2 separate regions of the Homo sapiens genome follow, and region 2 is linked to region 1. The links come from fine-mapping of genetic effects on gene expression. Tissue or cell type: whole blood. Region 1 holds a variant in brackets; the other region holds the start of a gene. All regions are shown on one strand. Distances are between the middles of the regions.

Region 1 (2,686 bases):
TATATCAATAAAAGGAGTTAAGTTTGAGCTGTATTTATTTTAGGGTGGCTTTTAATTTGGTTTAATCAGAATTACTCATAAATTATCGATTAATTACCTTCTGCTGTTCAGTTAAATCCTCTCAGCCACGGAGCCAGCTTCGCTGCGCAATGAATGCCATCCACCGTAATTATAGGGCACTTTGTCAGCATTTAATCAGCGGTACTTATTAATGTGGCATTGATGTGTGGTGGCCAGCCCCACGCTATCCATCATGGGTGAGCAGCCAGCACAGATTTGGACACCATTGCTCTCTGTCCCATTAGCCAGCCCCTGGGCTTTCGGGCCAAGCATCATGCTCGCTTTTCACTAAATGGACACTCTGTCTCTTCCATTCAATCCCATTTTTATCACTGTCGACTTAAACACTCATAAGCTTTTGAACTTCAGTCCAGAACGGCTGAGCAGGGCCTGACCACTTCTCCCAGTGAGTGTGAAATCCCAAGAGACTGGTCCGTGATCGGACATCATGGCATGGCGTGCATGTGTAAGAGAATTTTATATTCAACACAGCGTAGCACCCAGAGAACACAGAAGTGATCTTTTGGTTTTCTTTGGCTTACTGAATATTTTTGGAGATTCTTCTATTCCTGAAAGCTCTTCCAGTGAAAGCTATCTTGTGTTGGCAAAATAGATCTGATAGTGTCCTTTCTCTGTCTTTGCAGCCTCTACGGCAGACACATGCAGGCCAACCCAGAACCACCGAAGAAGAATAATGACAAATCGAAAAAGATCAGCCGGAAACCCCTGGCAGCCAAGAACAGATAAGGAAGGGATTGGCATCGGCTGGCCTTCCAGCACCTTCTCTCTCCAACACTTCATTCTCTCTTGCCCTGTCTCTCAAATAAACCCAATGCTGCGTGTGAGGCCTTTTTTATTTTTCTTTTCACTCTCTTTCTAATGCTTCCCACCTTACCTTTTAGATTCTTTTGCTAGGTGGGAGATTGTTATAAGGTCTTTAAACCATTTCCATTTGTTTCTTTAACATTACCAAAAGCAGGGAACAAAGCTCTTATTCAACTGCGAATTCCATAGTGGGCTCTGGCTTTTCTTGAATAGATATCACAAGGTTGCTTATTATCAAAAGAATAATTAAAATCATGTAACCATTTAAATGTCACTGTTAACACTTTTCACTCTTTCTGTTGATTCACCTAACTCATTATTTTGCTTTATTAAAAGTCTTCCTTCACCACCGAGATATGCTAATTTAACTTACAAATGATTTTAATAAAATCTTGAGTTTGT[A/G]TCACATGTTACTTATTGACTCAGAATAAAAGAACAGTCTGATCTTGGGGTATAACACATTTTCATTTACTTTTCTCCCCCAAAATCATCTTATCCAATTTTATTGGTTATACATGATAAACTTTTCATGAAAGAAATGCAAAATTAAATCACAGTTCGTTTCTTCTCACATTAATTTGTCAAGTTTTTTTTTTCTTTGAAGACTTTCTAAATTAGGAAGCAGAAAAACAAATCTCTAGGAGATTCTGCCAAAGGATTTTGGAAAGTAGCATTCCTTCGCCGAAGAAATGGTGATTTCTGCCAGGGGCTGGTAGACAAGAACTGTGAAAGAGAGAGAGAAAAAACCTCAACTGTGTATTTTGTCACGGCGGAAAATCTGCTCGCATCGAAGCATTCTTCTAAGCGACTTCGATGCCAAGGAAGTTGTGTAAATGTGCACGCGCTACACCACACCCAGGGTGGAAACCACAGTTGCAGAGTCATTAAACAATCAATTGTTTGTTTAACATCTGTGATAGGCAGCTTTCCTTCTTTTCAACAGTGATACCTACGAAAATCAAAATAAATGCAAGCTGAGGTTTTGTGCTCACTGAAAGGGCTGTCAACCCCAGAAGGCCGACACAAAAAAAATGGTATGTGAAGATGCACCGTCTTTTCAAATGGCCTGGGAGAGTCAAATGGCCTGGGAGAGGGGGCCTGCCCTTCTCTGCTGTGTCCTTTCGGCTTCCCAGTTGAGCTCCCAAGACCAGGACCCACTGGGGCATATAAAATCTCTGCTGTATCCTTTCGGCTTCCCAGTTGAGCTCCCAAGACCAGGACCCACTGGGGCATATAAAAAAGTCAAAAATCAAAATCAAACAACAAGTTCTGAGTTACTTAGGAAACAGACTTCGCATTTCAATCAGAGAGGCCACAGAGCAAGGTCTAAACTTCTGGCTTCTAGACAAATTCCTGATAGAACATTTAAATGTGGGAAGTGGCTTCCCCAGGTCCCATCCCCTGTTTAGGGATAGAGTTGATATCATTTTTATAGGTGCCATGTATGCCTCTGCCTGAATTTTTTTAATTGACTTTTGAGCTTTTGAGATTGCACGAGGGAGAACAAGGCCTTTGCTGTTGTGGATAGGAAAGACTTAACCTAAAATTAAACCAGCAAGAAAGCATTAGTAAAAATCTAACAATATGAAGGGCTCTTATGAGTCATTTTTTTCAAAAGATGAAAACTCCAGAAACGCACAGGAACGAAATACCTCCCAGAAACATGAAGCAATCATCGAAGACTCACTGGTAATATTTTTAAAAAGTATACAGATCAAAGCAAAAAGAAGCCATGTGTAACAAAGAGAAATGTGCAAATATTTTTTAAGGCAGTATTAAGTGCAAGAGGAGTAACATGAAA
Region 2 (2,686 bases), 220 kb before region 1:
TTAGTGGTGTTTCTCCAAAAATTCATAACCTGAAAGGGAACATCAAACTTACTTTGAAGGATATTCCACACAATACCTGGTCTGTATTCTTAAATAATGTCTAGTTCAATAAACATAAAAGCCAAGGACGGTTCCAGATCAAAGAAGACTAATGGAGGAATAACTCTTTCATCTGGAATGTTTTTTAAGCAAGAAATACCTGCTTTCGAATTTAAGAGTGCAGATCCTTTTTTTATCCAATTGGTTCGGAGATATAATTACATTATTTTACCACATCTCCTTAAGGCTTTGATCCCTGCTACAATCTACAATATATAAATGCATATGTGTGGCATCCGTCTTATCATCAATTTAGGTGACCAGTAGAAGAAAAGTGCCTGGTGCCAATTTTTATTCCATAGTATAAAATAGTCTCTCAGGACAGGGTTTTTGGTGAGAGAAGCACAGGATGTTGCTGGGTGACTGAGACTGGGTCAGGAAATAGGGAGGCAGAGGGCAACAGTTTCTCTAGAATTTAAAATTTGGTTGCTTTTGGAAGAGAAAGCAAGAGATTCCTGGAAGCCAGAACGTCATGTTTCACAAATGTAAAAGTCCTAGTTGGGAAAGACACATCGCTTTAGTGGTGTTTTCAAATGACTTTTAAAATAGTAGGGTTTTACTTGTAGGTTCTAGCTACAAGTAAAAAGGCTAAAAGCCAGCCTTAGAAACCTGTCAAAAAAGATTTCCAGCAGGGCGCTGGGGAAACGCAGACCGCGCCGGAATCCCCGCCTGGAGAAGCTCTTAATAGGGCGGGAAACTGCGTGCCCCACAAGGTCCCTCAGAGGCACATTGTGGAGACGGGCTCAGGGTAGCAACTTCTGGCGAGTGGAGCGGCTATTACACAAGCGAAACATTCGGAAGCAATTTACTTCCAGCTTTCGCAACACCCACCCTGAGCCACCACCCTCCCTTACACAGTCACGCCACAAACTTCCCCACTTCCGCCCACAGCCCTCTGGGCTTCGACCCATCAACTGAGCTTGCGCCAAGTCTACTGCGCACGCGCCAACTTCGGCCCAATCAGCGTCCCAAACCGTGGGGTGGACGCCACCGGGATAAACTATCCTCAGCGTGGGGCGGGGTCTCGAAGCCGAATAACGAACGTGATTAGCCAGCCTCTTCCACAGACTTTTAAGGGCGGAGCCTGGCCCTGGAGACACGTCTGGAGAGCTGTTCTCCTAATATGGGTAGGGTCGGGCGTGGAGCTGGCAGCGGCGCTGTGTGCGCCTGCGCGGGGCGCCGAGACAGGGCGTGTTCGCTGTTCAGTGCCGGTGTTGCAGGGAGTGAGGGCAGCTGGAGTGCGTTCTGCCGAAGCTTGTGGTTGCACGCCCATCGTCTTAGGGGCTACCTTCCGTGGTGAGTGTGTGCGGTGTTGCACTTGGGGTTGCTTCTCGCTGCGTGGCCGCAGCGGGGCTGAACCCTTCCCACTCCATCCCCTCCCCGCACCCGGACCAGCCCCTGGGACGCCCTCGGACGCCCACCCGCTCCAACCCTGGGGAAGCCTCAGAGTGGCAGCGAAGGCCTCTTGCCTTTCCGCCTCTGCGCTTGCTGTCATCGCCCACGTGCTTTGTTGTTGTTCGGTGCAGACCATGTCCAAGTCTCTGAAGAAGTTGGTGGAGGAGAGCCGGGAGAAGAACCAGCCCGAGGTGGACATGAGTGACCGGGGCATCTCCAACATGCTGGATGTCAACGGCCTCTGTGAGTTCTCGGGCAGGACTCTCCCGTGGATGAGCTGGAAGGCTTTCTAAGTTTGCCAATTCACTGCTGGTCCTGCTGTGAGCGATTGTACTGGTTTAGACCCCAGCCCCTGCTTGTAAACCTCACTTGTCAGGGGCTTCGCGCAGAGGGTTTGCAGTAGGATTTGTTCTGTTCCACCTGGAAAACGATCCTGAGAGTCCACGATGAGAATCACACAGACAGCTGTGCCTCATCGGTTGTCTCTGCTGTATGGCATTGAGGTGGATTTTCCACAGTTTGCTTAATAGTCACTTTAATTATAAATTGAAAATTAATTTTGAGTCCTTCTTCCTGTCTCCTAATACAGTCTTTGTCCATGAACAAATGACACAGAAAAGTTCCATGGTTAATAAGCATTCTTGTGCCTGGAGCGTTTTAAGCATTTCTTGAATCTTTACATTCTTCTGAGTATTTATTCTCCGAACTTGGTTCAGGCTTTTGTCACCTCCTCATGCTGTGGTGAAATCCTCCTAACTTGCCCTCTTGCCTTCAGTTTCACTGCCCAGTTTAATCACTGGGTCACTTTCAGTGTCATTTTCCTGTAACCCCTGTCTATGGTGTTACCCTCTCCCTTAAAACCAGGGATTGCAGATTCACATGCCTCCAAGTGAGGGCGGTCAGGGGCGGTTATGAACTAGGTGATAGGTGTCCCACTTGAAGGGGCCAGCTGCTGCACCTGCTACTCAGACACATGTCACCATAGGAATGTTGGCCCAATGTGCCAGATTATTTTCTTAAAGGAACCAAGATTCTATATTTTTATGTGAAATTTGCTAATTTTTAGATGTTGGCTACTAATTCTAATATTTGAAAAACCTGTGATAAGTGAGCTAAAGCAGTTCTTCAGGCTGACGTGGCTTTGGTTTAAACCCTCTCCGCACTTCTCCAGGTTGTCCATTATCGACGGTAA

What was found. PIP is the estimated chance that this variant, and not a neighbour inherited with it, causes the effect.
Region 2: it holds the start of RSU1, and the variant in region 1 is fine-mapped to the expression of RSU1 in whole blood (TOPMed, PIP 0.99).

The regions. Positions count from the first base shown.
Region 1 is chr10:16,591,515-16,594,200 of GRCh38, reverse strand. RSU1 (Ras suppressor protein 1) reads left to right here. Exons shown (of 9, transcript NM_012425.4): 9 at 705-2,686. The coding sequence ends at 807. Among named protein-coding and RNA genes, the nearest start is that of C1QL3, 71 kb to the right of the region's middle. The variant A/G (reference allele first, on the strand shown) is at 1,288.
Region 2 is chr10:16,816,024-16,818,709 of GRCh38, reverse strand. It overlaps RSU1 (Ras suppressor protein 1), which reads left to right and starts at 1,286. Exons shown (of 9, transcript NM_012425.4): 1 at 1,286-1,395; 2 at 1,626-1,737. The coding sequence starts at 1,629. It overlaps LOC105376435 (a long non-coding RNA gene), which reads right to left and starts at 1,011. Exons shown (of 3, transcript XR_930708.3): 1 at 954-1,011; 2 at 1-29. RefSeq lists enhancers at 668-717, 748-837, 868-977, 1,648-1,807.